Regions from separate parts of the Homo sapiens genome. Here regions 1 and 2 are each reported to be linked to region 3. The links are microRNA targets in miRTarBase. Many come from high-throughput screens and were not tested one by one. Region 3 holds a microRNA gene; each other region holds the end of a gene's coding sequence.

What was found. Region 3 holds the annotated microRNA hsa-miR-6799-5p (GGGGAGGUGUGCAGGGCUGG, at 3,542-3,561, shown strand). A microRNA usually pairs through its seed, bases 2 to 8, with sites in the 3' UTR of a target mRNA and lowers its output. Matches are read on the target gene's strand: a 7mer-m8 pairs with bases 2 to 8, a 7mer-A1 pairs with bases 2 to 7 and ends in A, and an 8mer does both.
Region 1: the mRNA of AQP6 is a reported target of hsa-miR-6799-5p. Seed matches in the 3' UTR shown: 7mer-A1 at 3,632-3,638, 7mer-A1 at 3,201-3,207, 7mer-A1 at 3,065-3,071 and 7mer-A1 at 2,860-2,866.
Region 2: the mRNA of ADA2 is a reported target of hsa-miR-6799-5p. Seed matches in the 3' UTR shown: 7mer-m8 at 2,299-2,305 and 7mer-A1 at 2,132-2,138.

What each region holds. Positions count from the first base shown.
Region 1 is chr12:49,975,472-49,979,560 of GRCh38, reverse strand. It overlaps AQP6 (aquaporin 6), which reads right to left. Exons shown (of 4, transcript NM_001652.4): 4 at 2,422-4,089. The coding sequence ends at 3,890. It overlaps LOC105369764 (a long non-coding RNA gene), which reads left to right and starts at 4,056. Exons shown (of 3, transcript XR_001749143.2): 1 at 4,056-4,089.
Region 2 is chr22:17,177,758-17,181,846 of GRCh38, forward strand. It overlaps ADA2 (adenosine deaminase 2), which reads right to left. Exons shown (of 10, transcript NM_001282225.2): 9 at 4,063-4,089; 10 at 1,033-3,819. The coding sequence ends at 3,726. Among named protein-coding and RNA genes, the nearest start is that of HDHD5-AS1, 20 kb to the left of the region's middle.
Region 3 is chr19:49,788,330-49,796,171 of GRCh38, forward strand. It overlaps MIR6799 (microRNA 6799), which reads left to right and starts at 3,537; the gene lies at 3,537-3,605. AP2A1 (adaptor related protein complex 2 subunit alpha 1) reads left to right here. Exons shown (of 23, transcript NM_130787.3): 5 at 3,606-3,735; 6 at 4,662-4,763; 7 at 7,301-7,409.

The DNA of each region.
Region 1 (4,089 bases), not on the chromosome of region 3:
CTGGAGGTAGTAGATCGAAGATGAAAAGTGGGGGTGGGAAGCGGAGAGGGGCTTCCTGCCAGCCAATCGGGACGCGACCGCCCAGGCTCCCAGCACAGCATCATCTGCTCCTGCTAAGACAATCATCAACATAAAAGGCTAATTGTATTAATCACCAAGGCACCCGGCCCGAGTCCCCCTCCCTTTGGGGAGAATTATGAATTGCAATTGCAGATGGCTCCACTGATTGAAGGCAGTGCTCAGCAGGGAGAAGGGTCAGATCAGATTATACACCATTAATTAAAAACTTCCCTGACAAACAGGAGGAAGGGAATGCACACCAAGGGCTGGCCTGGTTGGGTCTCTGTCCTCCCCATGTCCCCTGCCCCCACCCAGGCCCAGGGGCTATGCCAATGAAGCCTGCTTCCCCCAGCTGGAGCTACTGAGATTCAGCTCTCCAAAGGCCAGCCCTTCCCTCATCCAAACAGATGGCCTGCTGTCCTATTAAAGGGCTCCAGAGGAGGGGAAGCGAACCTTTGGTTACTTATTTCCACGTCTAACCTTGGATGCTCTTCAGAGGCTAACCTAATTCCCCACTTCTCAGGAAACTTATTTCCTCCTGCTCTGTCCTGACAGAACTGCTTTGAAGAACTGTTAGTGAAAATAGCCCCTCAGCTTTCTCTTCAGGCAACCCCTCATATTTTGGCCTGTATGTTCCTGGGACAGACATTGTGAAGCCTGCTCTGAAATTGTGGGTGGAACAGCAAATATCTGGCGATGCACCCTCTCCCCAGCCCCTGCCTGGAAGCATAGGCTTCTCAGCTGCTGTCATACTGGCTTATTTGGAGCTGTAACTCCTGAAATTTTCTCCTCTTGATCTATTACTGCCTCCCATCCTCCCCAACTGCCCAGCCTTATTCATTCATCAAACTTATATTGAGCACCCAGTGTGTGCTTGGCTCTGGGGACAAAAAGCAGTGATCATTTGTCAAGGAGCTTAAGAGCCTACCATAGGAGCTCCACGCCCCCATCCCCTTCAATCCTCTAGTTCCTGTTTCCTTCCTTCCTGGGGCTGCAGCTTGTATGAACCCCCCAGGAGCTCTATTTTGGAAAATTCTCAACTGGGAGCTGGGGAGACCTTAAGTGTTCGTGCTCCTGAACCAGGTGACCTTGAGCAAGTCAATCATGTCCTCTGTTTACACATACGCTCTCATACATGCATACATACAGACACCCAGCTCTCCCTGCTCATAAAAGGACACAGGCAGCCTTGGACTCTGAGAGATTGTGAAGATGGATGAGTGGGGCCCAGCTTGGAGAGATGTGAGTAGTATCTGCGCTGATATTACAGAACGCTGAGCACAGCTACTGGGGCTATGAGCACCAGGGATTCAGCTACTGCACTGGTCACAGGCTGGGCCTGCCACACTGCCCTTGGAAGACTTGGGCAGCCTTTCCCCCATCCCCAGTCCCTCAGGAGACATCACTAAAAAGGATCTATCTTTTGTTTGTATTTTAATTTAATTAATTTTTCATTTTAAATAATAGAGATGAAGTTTCACTATGCTGCCCAGGATGGTCTCAAACTCCTGGCCTCAAGCAATCCTCCTGCTTGGGCCACCCAACATGTTGGTGATTACAGGTTTGAGCCGTCATGCCTGGCTAAGTTTTTAATTTTTTGTAGAGGCAGGGTTTTGCCATGTTGTCCAGGCTGGTCTCGAACTCCTGGCCTCAAGCGATCCTCCCACTTTGGCCTCCCAAAGTGTTAGGATTACAGGTGGGAGCCACTGCACCAGGCCAGGACCCATCTTTTGTTTTGTTTTTTTTGTTTTTTTTTTTGAGACAGAGTCTTGCTCTGTCACCAGGCTGGAGTGCAGTGGCGTGATCTTGGCTCACTGAAACCTCTACCTTCCGGGTTCAAGTGATTCCCCTGCCTCAGCCTCCCAAGTAGCTGGGACTACAATCACGCGCCACCACGCCCGGCTAATTTTTTATATTTTAGTAGGGACAGGGTTTCACCATGTTGGCCAGGATGGTCTCGATCTCCTGACCTCGTGATCTGCCCGCCTCAGCCTCCCAAAGTGCTGGGATTACAGGCGTGAGCCACCGTGCCTGGCCGCCAGGACCCATCTTTTATATGAATTTGGCTGCTGCATCTTAGGGTACCATGGTGATGGGCGTCATAGAGATGAGAAGAACTGATTTTATTGGTTCGCCTCTTCATTCCAGGGCCCTCCCACAGCCCCTCACACCCACAAAGCCTCAAGGTCAGCAGACCCAGGAGAAGAGCACACAGGGTCCCTGGTTAAGTAGATCCAATGATGTGAGAGAAAACCCAGTCTCTCTTCCCTCCCTCTCAATCATCTTTCTCTCTCTCTTTTCCCCTCCTCCCTCTCATTACCAACAGCAATTGTCTTCATACCCAATAATTACAGTAACAGCAACAATAATCATCATTTATTGGGGTTGTTTTTCTAGCATTTTAACTTCTGAAAGTATTTTCCGATTTCTTGATTTCACAGCAGTCCCTGGAGGAGGATTGTGTGTCCATTTTACAGCTGGAGAAGCCGAGATCCAGAAAGGACCCCCAAGTTGTGGGCAGAATAAATCTACAGCAGCTTTTAACTATTAAACCAACTTAGATTTTGGTAGTCTTTCAGAGGCACTGAATCTCAAATCTTAGTTTCCTGGGTCCCTCCTGGGTTCCTACCACCCTTAGGGCTTATTCAACAGCTTTCTGGGGATCCTGTAATGCTGACAGAGAGCCTGGAGACGGCTTCTTTGACCCAGGTCATGAGTCAATGGCTAGATGGGCACTTCCCCTCTGAGGATTGTTCCTGCCTGAGAGTGGGCTGTGGGGTGGGAGCTGGGGCAAGCACCTGGGAGGAGGCTTCCCTGGGAAAGGCCTGTCTGGCTCAAACCTCCCTTCCTCTATCCCACCTCTCTACGAGCCTGAGAAAATGTTCTTCTCTGTGTCAGTTCTTCTCAAGGGTGGGGGCCTCTCCAGAGCATTTGGAGGATTGAGGAATAAAGACCTATTGGGAGAGGCCGGGCACGGTGGCTCACGCCTGTAATCCCAGCACTTTGGGAGGCCGAGGTGGGCAGATCGCCTCAGGTCAGGAGTTTGAGACCACCCTGACCAATATGATGAAACCCCATCTCTACTAAAAATACAAAAAATTAGCTGGGCGTGGTGGCAGGCGCCTGTAATCCCAGCTACTTGGGAGGCTGAGGCAGGAGAATCCCTTGAACCCAGGAGGTAGAGGTTGCAGTGAGCCGAGATCATGCCACTGCACTCCAGCCTGGGTAACAGATCAAGATTCTGTCTCAAAACAAACAAAGATCTATTGGTAGAGCAGTCTCTGTCCTCAGGAAGCCCCCAGTCTGAAGGAGGAAATATAGCCCCCAAAACCACACCCAAGGTCAGAGAAACACCCCCAGGAGCTCAGAGGCTGTCCCAGGGCCTGATTCCTCCAGAAAGCCTGTCCTCTCTGGACCAAGGGTTTCCTGGGTGGGTAAGAAGCTGGGGCTCCCTGAGGTCCCTATAGCTCCCATGTCTAAGCAGAGTGGCTGTCTGGGCTCCCATTCCTTTCTCCCCCAAGACTTGGGCATCTGGGGTCAGGACTCCTACGGGGTCCAGTGGGTGAGAGGATGGGAGGGCGATCCTAAATCCCCTGCCTTCCTCTGCTCTGTCCCACCGAGAGGTGGGGAAGCCCTACAGAGAGGGAATGGGACAAATTCACTCCCAGATTCTACCTAGAAACGTAATGCCAGGGATAGGGCTTGTCCCCTCCAGCCCACCTGGTCAGGACAAAAGGTCAAGCCTCCCCCTCCCGCCACCCCCAGGGAGAACCTCCAGGCAGGTCCTGCAAGGCAGGAAGCCCAAGGGCGCGGCCAGGCGTAGGCTGTTTCACACACTCTCCATCTCCACGGCTCCCGAACCCGGCTGGGATTCCTTCTTCAGGGGCTCCGCCCCTGCCCCTGCCCCTGTCCCCACCTCTACGGTGCCTGTGAGGATAGCCAGCCGCTGCGCCAGGGTCTTGGTGTCGGGGAACAGGACGAAGTTGTAGATCAGTGAGGCCAGGAGGGCTCCCATCAGGGGCCCCACCC
Region 2 (4,089 bases), not on the chromosome of region 3:
ATATATGGAATCAAATGTTGTAAAATGTTAATAACTGGGGGAACCTGGGCAAAGAGAATGTTAGAGGTTTGTGTTGTTGTTGTTGTTATTTTTGTTTGTTTTTTTGAGACAGGGTCTCGCTTTATTGGCCAGGCTGGAGTGGAGTGGTGTGATCTCAGTTCACTACAACCTCCTCTTCCTGGGCTCAAGCAATCCTCCCACCTCAGCCTTCTGAATAGCTAGGACCACAGGCACACCCCACCATGCCCAGCTAATTTTTGTATTTTTAGTAGAGATGAGGTCTGGCCATGTTGCCCAAGCTGGTCTCAAACTCCTGGGCTCAAGCAATCCACTCGCCTCGGCCTCTCAAAGTGCTGGGATGACAGGCGTGACCCCCTGTGCCTGGCCTGGTAAGAGTTTTTTGTACTATTCTTGCAACTTTTTGAAATTATTTCAAAATGATCAGATAAATGCTCCATGGACATTTAGTTCAATAGGACTAGGCCTATGCAATGAGGAATAAAGTCAAGAAGGAAGAACTAACAAGCTTTGTAAGTTGAATTTAAAAGCTTAAAGACTGGATGTGGTGGCTAGTGCCTGTAATCCCAGGTATCCAGGAGGCTGAGGCAGGAGGATAACTTGAGGCCATAGTTTGAGATCAGTTGATCAGCCTGAGCAACATAGTGAGACACTGTCTCCAAAAAAAAAAAAAAAAAAAAAAAAGGCCGGGTGTGGCAGCTCACACCTGTAATCCCAGCACTTTGGGAGGCCGAGGCGGGCAGATCATGAGGTCAGGAGTTCAAGACCAGCCTAGCCAACACAGTGAAACCCCGTCTCTACTAAAAATACAAAAATTAGCCAGGCGTGATGGCAGGTGCCTGTAAACCCAGCTACTCGAGAGGCTGAGGCAGAAGAATTGCTTGAACCCGGGAGGCAGAGGTTGCAGTTAGCCAAGGTCGCGCCACTGCCCTCCAGCCTGGGCAACAGACACTCTGTCTCAAAAAAAAAAAAAAAAAAAAAAAAAGAAGGAAGAACTGGACACAAAGCACAAAGGCAAGACTATTGCTGGTTCATTTTGCCAAATCAGAGATCACAGCAAGTCCAGGCCAGAGGCTGTTTGCGTCTGCCTGTGTTGGAGGTCCCCTGCGCAGTTGGGACCTAAAAGATCTTCAGGGATTGGGTAAGGCACTGAATCACCTGCAGAGTTAGACAGGACCCTAGAGGTTGTCTTCTTCCATCCAGGCACAGCTTATGGTTGCTGTTTTTTCCCAGTTCCAGGAACCAAATGGTGATAAACTAGGAATGGAGAGAGGGCTTGCTGCTGTCTGAGAGCTCAGGTACAGGTCATGGAAGATGGATGAGAGGACATTCGCCTGGGGCTTTTGAGGAATTCTTTGATTCCCTGCCATCCTTGAGTTGGGTGAGGACAGAGGTGGCTTCTTGCATCCTTCTTCCAAGGCCAGGTGAGGAGCTGGACTCTGATCACATGAGGTCTTTTATTTGGGGCGGCTCTGCTCTACTCCCCTCTGCCTTGGCAGCTGGCTGAACAGACACAGTGACAGCCACTCATTCAATGCATTGTTTATTGAGTACTAACTAGCTTTGGGCCCAGGCTCTGGGTTAGCAGCATGCGTGAAACAATCAGAAACAATCATGAGCGCCTGCCCACATGGGGCATACAGTCTGGCAGGGCAAGACTGTAGACACAGAAATAAATATCCGATTATAAGCTGTGATTAGAGGCATGATGGAAAAGAGCAAGGCTTCCTGAGAGAAACAGGGCGAGCACAGGAAAACCTCTCTGAGACAGTGACATGAACTTGAAACTTGAAGGGTAAACAGGAGTGGGCAAGACAAAAGGGGAAAGAAGGAATCTTCCAGGCAGAGAGAAAGAGAAAAGACCCAGGCACGGTATAGAGCCGAGGACATTTGAGGAAGAAAGGGCCGCCGGGGTTGGGGCCCTCTGGGTGACTGGGAGAGGAAGGCGCCGGAATGGATCCAGATTAAATCGGATGCTGTATGCCCTGTGGAGACATGGGGTGTACCTCTAAACGCACTGCGTTGTAAGCAAAGGAGTGACCTGATTTAATTTGATCTTTTAAAAGTCATTCTAGGCCAGGCCGGGTGGCTCACGCCTGTAATCCCAGTGCTTTGGGAGGCCGAGGCGGGTGGACCACGAGGTCAGGTGTTCGAGACCAGCCTGGCCAACATAGTGAAACCCCATCTCTACTAAAAATACAAAAATTATCCGGGCATGGTGGTGCATGCCTGTAATCCCAGCTACTCAGGAGGCTGAGGCACGAGAATCCGCTTGAACCCGGGAGGTGGAGGTTGCAGTGAGCCGAGATCGCACCGCTGCACTCCACCCTGGGCAACAGAGCGAGACTCCATCTCAAACAAAACAAAACAAACAAACAAAATGTCATTCTACACTGTGAAAAATGAGCTGGAGGAGGCAAAGGGAAGAAAGGGGAGATCAGTGAGGAGGCTGTTGTCATAGCTCAGGCAGGAGTATGGTAGCTTGGACTTGGCAACAGCGTGCAGGTAGAGCACCACCGCTGGAGTCTGGATGCGGGATGCATTCTGATGTAGGGAGTGGGGGACCGCGCAGCATCAAGAAGCCACCGCTGGAGTCCAGATGAGGGATGCGTTCTGATGTAGGGAGTGGGGGACGGCGCAGCATCAAGACTTGCACTGAAAATTTCTGCTTTGAGCAACTGCGTGGAATGGATGGAGGTGTCCTTCACCAGCTATGGGAAAGGCCAGGGAAAGGTTTAAAGGGCTGAGTGTGGTGGCTCATGTCAGTAATCCCAGCACTTCGGGAGACTGCGGCAGGAGGATCACTTGAGTTGGAGACCAGCCTGGGCAACATAGCAAGACACTCTTTAGAAAAATTAAAGTAGAGAAAAAGAAAGGTTTAAAGGGAAGAGACTGAGGGTTCAGAATTGTACCTCATCAGTTTCTGAGATTCCTGTGAGCTCTCCAAGTGCATAAATAAATGTGGGAATCATTAACAAATAAATGGTATGAAAAAGCAAAGGAATGGATGAGACCACCCAGGAAAAGTGTACAGAGAGAGAAGAGAAATAAAGAGGAGAGAGTTAAAGAGACCAGAATAGGCCAGGCATGGTGGCTAATGCCTGTAATTCCAGCACTTTGGGAGCCAAGGGGCGAGTGGATCACCTGAGGTCAAGAGTTGGATACCAGCCTCGCCAACATGGTGAAAACCTGTCTCTACTAAAAATGCAAAAATCAGCTGGGTGTGGTGGCACATGCCTATAATTCCAACTACTCGCGAGGCTGATGCAAGAGAATTGCCTGAACCCGGGTGGCGGAGGTTGCACTGAGCTGAGATCGCACCATTGTACTCCAGCCTGGGCAACAAGAGCAAAACTCCATCTCGAAAAAATACAAAAATAAAAAAATAAAGAGACCAGAATAGAAGAGAGCCCAGGACTGAGTCCTGAGGAAACAGCACAGAGATCAGAGAGAGGAGAAGACTCTGAAATAGGGAAACTGGAAGAAATGGCCAGAGACAGGAGAAAACCAAGAGGGTCAATGTCACTGTGGCTGAGAGAGAATATTTCCAGAGGATGAATTTGCTCAGCCAGCCAAGTGCTTCTCACAGGGTCGCTCCATACAGAGGCCATTGATTTCATGGGCACATGGAGCTGATTCAAGAACGAGTGAGAGGAAGTGACAGCGTGTGCAAGAAGACAGCTTGTAGAGGGCTGGCTAGCTTCTCCTCACTTTGTAGCCACATCTGCTATGAACTTATCCCATCTCTTCTTCCAGATTTCCATGAAAGTATTTTTCTCACTCTCCAACAGGGTACTGTACCTGCAGGAAGAGGAGGAGCCCAGGTCAGCCTCAGGGCAGGGGTTGGGGAACGGGGCAGGGAGCCTGAGAGGACATTAGAGCCTTGCAGAGCACTCTCCCCAGGCCAGCAGCAAGGACTAAACAGCCATGATGAGAAGGAACCCACAGGAACCATCGAGGCATCTGCCTCAAGCCTCCAGAGAGGCAAACACAAGCTGCGGGCTGGAAGGAGGCGGGGGACCTGGGAGGACACAGGACACTCACTTGATAGAGTTCATGGCCAGCTGTTTG
Region 3 (7,842 bases):
TTCCACTTAACCAAGTTGATAAATAGCTCTTATTCCTTTGTGTGGTATCCTTATCTGTAAATGGAGATGATAGAATCCGCGTCCTTAGAGGGCTGTGGTGGGGAGCGAGCGAGCTGTGCGGGAACACTTAGAGCAGAGTTTGGCCCAGAGTCAGGACTCGGGAGATGCGCTGTGGCTCAGGAGATGTGTGCCGTGGCAGCGATGGGAAAGTGGCCCAGAGTCAGGGCTCGGGAGATGCGCTGTGGCTCAGGAGATGTGCGCCGTGGCAGCGATGGGAAAGTGGCCCAGAGTCAGGGCTCGGGAGATGCACTGTGGCTCGGGAGATGAGCGCCATGACAGAGATGGGAAGGTGGCCCAGAGTCAGGGCTCGGGAGATGCGCGCCGTGACGGAGATGGGAAAGTGGCCTGGAGTCAGGGCTCGGGAGATGTGCGCTGTGACGGAGGTGGGAAAGTGCCGTCACAAATGGAGCATCGTCTGTGGCCAGGCTTCTTGCTGGTTTCTGGTTCTAACTTGATGACCACTGGGCAGTGAACGTTTCTGTAGGGTGAGCGTCTGGGGGCAGCACTGCTGGTCTTGGTCTGCTGCACACACAGCAGTGGCCTTTCTAGACAGAGGAAGCCCAGAGCCTCTCCAGAGGGCCTGTCCCTGTGTCCGCCTCCAGCTGCAGCACACGAGGGTTCCCAGCACTTTAGGAGGCCGTAGCAACAGGCGTCAGTCGGGCGAGTATCTGCCTGGATGACGGCAGGAGCCACCTGCTGGGTGGCTGCACATCCAGTGAGACATGCTGCCACAGGCCTTTGACTCGTGCAGGTCTCCCCTCTGAGGACTTCTCCCCTGTGTCTTTTGCTGTCTGTTGGGTGCTTTCTGGGAAACCCTTTACTGATAGGCCATGGCTGGGCCAGTCTTGACAGCTCCCAGCACCTCCTCTTACTCAAGGCTATGGCCATGCACCACACAATCTCATTTCTGTTTTTTTTTGAGACGGAGTCTCACTCTGTCTCCCAGGTTGAAGTGCAATGGTGAGATCTCAGCTCACTGCAACCTCTGCCTCCCAGGTTCAAGCGATTCTCCTGCCCCAGCCTCCCGAGTAGCTAGGATTTCAGGCACGTGCCACCATGCCCAGCTAATTTTTGTATTTTTAGTAGAGATGGGGTTTCACCATGTTGGCCAGGCTGGTCTCAAACTCCTGACCTCAGGTGATCCACCTGCCTCAGCATCCCAAAGTGCTGGGATTATAGGTGTGAGCCACTGCGCCTGGCCTTTTTTTTTTTTTTTTTTTGTAGAGACAGGGTTTTACCACGTTGGCCTGGCCAGGCCGGTCTCAAACACCTGGCCTCAAGTGATCCGCCTGCCTCAGCCTCCCAAAGTGTTGGGATTACAGGTGTAAGCCACCATGCCTGGCCCACCATCTTATTTCTTTCTCCCCAAAGCCGACAAGGCTCCTCATTTTCCTGAAGGGGAAACAGCCCATCAGAGAGGGTCAGTGGCTTACCCCCATCTGTGCCCCACAGTCACAACCTCATGCAGGCGTGTCTGACCCCAGAAGGTGCTCCCCTGGGATCCTCTTCTAGAACAACATCATGCTCCATGCTCTTTGCTGTGCTAGGAGCTGGGTTATGGTTGGGGCCTGGAGTCAGCCCTCTGAGATGGGCTGCCCGCTGGCTGCCAGGTTCTGTGCCAGGCAAGTGCTGACCCTGGTTTCCTGTGACTGCTGTGATGAATTACCACCAGCACAGCGGTGTCAAACACCGGTTCTGGATGTCGGAAGTCCAACATCCATCTCACGGGGCTAAAATCAAGGCGTGGGCAGGGCTCGTCCCTTCCGGGGGCCCTAGAGGAGAGGCCGCGTCCTTGCCTTCTCCAGCTCCTAGAGGCCACCTGCTTTCCTTGGCTCGTGGCCCCTTCCCCCATCCCCAAAGGCAGCAGTGTGGCATCTTCTCTCCTGCCTGACCTCTGTTCCATCCTCACATCATCTCTGACTCTGAACTGTATCTTTCCCTTATAAGGACCCTGTGATGACATTGGGTCCACCTGGATCACCCAGGATCCTCTCTCCATCTCATGATCCTTAACTTTATCATATCTGCAAAGTACCCCCACCCTTTTTTTTGTTTGGAGACAGGGTCTTGCTCTGCCACCCAGGCTGCAGCCTTCACCTCCCAGGCTAAAGCGATCCTCCCACCTCAGCCTGCCAAGTAGGTGGGTCTACAGGCATGCGCCACCACGCTTGGCTAATTCTCATATTTCTAGTAGAGATGGGGGTCTCACCATGTTGCCCAGGCTGGTCTCCAACTCTTGGGCTCAAGTGATTCTCCCACCTCAGCCTCCTAAAGTGCTGGGATTACAGGCGTGAGCCACCCTAACCCCCAGAACCTGTGAATATATTCCCTTGGATTCAAAAGAGCCTTGCAAAGTCTGTTCCCTCACAACAGGCAGAGGGACCCTTTAAAAACCTAAGCCAGATCAAAAATACACCCATTTTCTCAGTTTGTTGTGGAGAGAAGATAAACGTGTGAATCCACCCAGAGACCTGTGGGAGTGCTGGACAGGCCGAAGGGGTCCGGGGGCAGCTGTTCCTGCTGTCGTGTTAACATCACGCTGATTCTCTGCTCACCACCCACAGCGGCTTTCATCTCCCAATCGGTAAAAAGCCAAGTCCTCACTTCAGCCAACAAGGCCCTGCAGGGTCTGGCTCTCTGTTCCCTCCCTGTCCTATCTGCAGCCCTCCTGCCCCATGGCTCAGGCCGCAGCCTGCAGGCCTCCTTGCTGCTCCTCCTACACACGGGCTCCGCCTTCCTGATGGCCTTGGCACAGGCTGTTCCCTCTGCCTGGGATGTTCTGTTGCAGAGGATTTTCAGTCTTTCCTCCTTAAGTTACTCTGTTTTGTTTATTTTTAAATTTTTTTATTTATTTAGAGACAGCTCTAACTCTGTTGCCCAAGCTAGAGGGAGTGCAGTGGCACAGTCATGGTGCACTGCCGCCTCGACCTCCCAGTCTCGAGCAATCCTCCCACCTCACCCTCCCGAGTAGCTGGGATTACAAGCCTGCGCCACCACACCCAGCTAATTTTTGTATTTTTGAAGAGACTGGGTCTCACTGTCGCCCAGGCTGGTCTTGAATTCATGGCCTCAAGTGATCCTCCCACCTCGACCTCCCAAAGTGCTGGGATTATAGGCGTGAGCCACCATGCCCAGCCCTGACAGTATTTGATGTATGTGTTTTCGTGGTGCTGTCTGAAATGTAAGCCCTGTGAGGACAAGTGTTTGGACCACTTTATTCACCACTCTATCCATGGAGTGAACAGCAGTGCCTGGTACCCCATGGGCACCCAGTAGGTGCTTGGTGAATGAATGAAGGTGCAGAGCCAGGCTTGACATGTTCCTGAGCCCTGTGAGGTTACTGAGATGCAATCATTTTGCAGATGAAGACACTGAGTCCTGGTGGGCCGTGAGGTCAGCGCCAGACTGGATCCTGCGGCCGCCTGGCTGTCTGTCCCTCTCGCTGGCCTCGCACACCCTTCCTGGGAGGAACAGGAGAGGAGGGGAGGTGTGCAGGGCTGGGGTCACTGACTCTGCTTCCCCTGCCCTGCATGGTGTCCCCACAGGGACAGCATGGACAGTGTCAAGCAGAGTGCGGCCCTGTGCCTCCTTCGACTGTACAAGGCCTCGCCTGACCTGGTGCCCATGGGCGAGTGGACGGCGCGTGTGGTACACCTGCTCAATGACCAGCACATGGTGAGCCCCCAGCCCTCACACCCCCGGATACCCAGGGCTCCCACCTCAGCCCTGACCCCCCTGGATGCCCGGGGCTCCCACCTCAGCCCTCACACCCCCGGATACCCAGGGCTCCCACCTCAGCCCACGCACCCCCTGGATGCCCGGGGCTCCCACCTCAGCCCTCACGCCCCCGGATACCCAGGGCTCCCACCTCAGCCCTCACGCCCCCTGGATGCCCAGGGCTCCCACCTCAGCCCTCACGCCCCCGGATACCCAGGGCTCCCACCTCAGCCCTCACGCCCCCGGATACCCAGGGCTCCCACCTCAGCCCTCACGCCCCCTGGATGCCTGGGGCTCCCACCTCAGCCCTGATCCCCCTGGATTCCTGGAGCTTCCCCCTCGGCGCTGACGTTCACCAGACACCAGAAACCATGATCCAGTGTCCCCGGTACTCATTACCTGCCCAAGTGTCCAGAAACCCTCCCATCCCCATCTCTGACACTCCCCTGGCTGGCCAGGGATCCTGTCCAGTGACCCCCACACCCCTCACCAACCACCCAGTCCCTTAGAAAATCCCACTCTGTTTCTAATACCTGGAGATTCCCCCAACAGCGCCCATCACCTGCGCACCAGCGCAGAAACCTTGACTGTCCCACCCCCACAGTCCCAACCCTCTAGAGTCTCGCCCCTTCACTGCTCCTTACCCAGCTGCCTGGGGTCCTGCCAGGGACACCCCACACACCCAGGTCAGTGCTGGCCATGGCGCCCGAGGCCCCGTGGCCTCCTCACCCCACCCCTAAAGCACGCACAGTGACACATGTGCACACCCCTAAACCCCATCTTCCCGACTGCACACACATCCCGACCCTGTCCCGCTCCTGAGCCTCTGCTCTCAGGTACCACCTCCCCCAGGGGCCTGACTTGTCTCTCCTCTGCCCCTGCAGGGTGTGGTCACGGCCGCCGTCAGCCTCATCACCTGTCTCTGCAAGAAGAACCCAGATGACTTCAAGACGTGCGTCTCTCTGGCTGTGTCGCGCCTGAGCCGGGTGGGTGTGGCCTAGATATTGGCTGCTGGAGGTGGCCCTGGCATCCCTATGCCCTCTGACACCCCTCAGGCCCCCACTCTCCCTGAGAGGCAGCCCAGCCCAAGGTTTACAAACTCAGGCTCTGAGCTGGATTCATCCTGGCTCGGCCTCTTCCTGGCTGGGTGGCCCTGGACAAGTGGCTTCACCTCCCTGGCCTCAGCTGCCCCCTGTGTTCAGTGGGGATAATACCGGTGCCCACCTGGAGGCACAGAGCGCTGTGGATAGAGTGCTCAGAACAGGGCCTCGCGGGCCGAGCACCCCGGGAGCCAGCCGCCCTCATGACCTCCTCCCTCTCCCACTTCTCTCTCTGTCTCCCACTTTCCCTCTTCTGGCTTTGCCTCCCGCCTCTCTCTTTCCTGTGCAGCCTCTCACTCCTGCCTGGCGTCCCTCTCCCACCTTTGCTCCTGTCCTGCCCAGGAACATCCCCTGAGGCCTTGTGCATGCCAGGCTCCATGTCGGGTGACACCAGGGACACAGATGAGTCAGAACCAAGCTCTGCTCTTAAGGAGCTCCCTGTCCTTCTGGCAGGGAGGTGACTCAGTCACAGATTGTCAGAAAAGGGGTGACTCGTGCTATAATGGAGGTAGGATAGGTCACCCATAGGAGGCACTTAACACAGCCTGTGAGTCCACGAAGGCTTCCTGGGGGCGGCGATCCCAGAATTGAGACTTAGAATACACATGCGCATCTCCTGGGCAGTCAGGAAGAGGCCTGGATTCGCAGGCAAAGAGAAGAACACACCAGCTCGTGCATCCACTCATTGTTTCTTTTTTTTTTTTTTTTTTTTTTTTTTTGAGACGGAGTCTCGTTCTGTCCCCAGGCTGGAGTGCAGTGGCGCGATCTCGGCTCACTGCAAGCTCCCAGGTTCACGCCATTCTCCAGCCTTAGCCTCCCGAGTAGCTGGGACTACAGGCGCCTGCCACTATGCCCGGCTAATTTTTTGTATTTTTAGTAGAGACAGGGTTTCACCGTGTTAGCCAGGATGATCTCGATCTCCTGACCTCGTGATCCACCCGCCTCGGCCTCCTAAAGTGCTGGGATTACCGGCGTGAGCCACTGCGCCTGGCCCACTCATTGTTTCTTTCTCAGGTTTTTTTTTTTTTTGAGACAGGGTCTTGCTGTCGCCCAGGCTGGAGTGCAGTAGTGCAGCCATGGTTCACTGCAGCCTCTGGCTCCTAGGCTCAAGCGATCTCTCGCCTCAGCCTCCCGAGTAGCTGGGACTGCAGGTGCCTGGCTAATTTTTGTATTTTTTGTAGAGATCGGTCTTGCTTTGTCGCCCACACTGGTCTCAAACTCCTGGCTTCAAGTGATCCTCCCGCCTCAGCCTCCGAAAGTGCTGGGATTACAGGTGTGAGCCACTGCACTCAGCCTCAGTCATTGTTTCATTCATTCATCACACATCTGAGTACTGCAGTGTGCCAGGATGACAGTGAGGTAGGAACACAGACCAGCACGGAGGTGGGACAGAGCTTCCTGGAGAAGGGCTTTTCAAGGTTGAATAGGAGTTTGCAATGAGGAAAAAAAGTCACATGATCTTTCTTTTTTTTTGAGATGGAGTTTCGCTCTTATTGCCCAGGCTGGAGTGCAATGGCGTGATCTTGGCTCACTGCAACCTCTGCCTCCCGGGTTCAAGCAATTCTCCTGCCTCAGCCTCCCAAGTAGCATGGATCACAGGCATGTGCCACCACGCCCAGCTAATTTTTGTATTTTTAGTAGAGATGGGGTTTCACCATGTTGGTCAGGCTTGTCTTGAACTCCTGATCTCAGGTGATCCACCCACCTTGGCCTCCCAAAGTGCTGGGATTACAGGCGTGAGCCACTGCACCTGGCCATGATCTTTCAATCTTTCACTAATTCCCTGCCTCTTCCCCGAACCTCTTCCTATCTGACCTTGTATTAGGCCTAGGGACCCAAAAAAGGGTCAGACCCAATCCCTGCCCCTGAGTGGCTTCAAGCCTTGTAGGGGGACTACAGGAAACAGCCTCCAGGAGCCGGTGCGCTGTGTGCTCTGACGGAGGAAGCCTGGGGCATGGGAGGCTCAGAGCCGAGTGAGGAGGGGGCCCTGGGAAACTGTCACACAGAAGGGAACCAGCAGAGACCTTTCCTGCCCACCACACACCAGCATTACTTGGAAAGATCAACCAGCCGGGCTTAGTCCTAGTTTTGCCCCCATTCAGTGTGCCTGACGCTTCCTCGCTCCCTTCCCAGAGCCTCAGATTCCTGCTTCATAAAACCATTGCATTGGTCGGGCATGGTGGCTCATGCCTGTAACCCCAGGACATTGCGGGACTGAGGTGGGAGAATTGCTTGAGGCCATGAGTTCGAGACCAGCCTGGGCAACATAGTGAGACCCTGTCTCTACAAAAAAAACCCACTAACAAAACCATTAACACTGACAGCACTGCCCTTGGAAGGCACCATTTGCTCCACCCTGGCATGTGGACCCACGTGCCCCTCCCACCCCAGCCCCCAACTTATTTCTTGCTCTTCCCCGCCAGATCGTCTCCTCTGCCTCCACCGACCTCCAGGACTACACCTACTACTTCGTCCCAGCACCCTGGCTCTCGGTGAAGCTCCTGCGGCTGCTGCAGTGCTACCCGCCTCCAGGTAATGAACGCCGTGCACTCCCCAACCCGGGGTGGCCTGCTGCTGGCATCTGGGGGCCTCCTGCTCCACGGCGCACCAGGTGGGACTGGAGGGTCTGGGTCAGGATTTCTCTGAAGCTGGGGCGGTTCCTCTGTCCCCTTACGTGGCTGCACTCGGGGAGGCAAGCAGGCAGCCCGAGGCCCAGCGCCTACCCTGTGCAGCATCGTGGATCAGCCTCATAGCTGAGGTCCCTGCTACCCGGGCTCTCACTCCAGCCCTGTTGCGAGGGACTGTTAACTGTGCCTGTTTTATAGATGAGGAATCTGAGGCTTGGAGAGGGAGCTCCTGGCCCAGCGTCACTCACCCGGTCAGTGGGTGATTCCAGGCCGTGCTACCTGAATTACCATAGCCCTGTCAGGGGTTTTCACATCTGTTGGGAACCTTCCCCTACTGC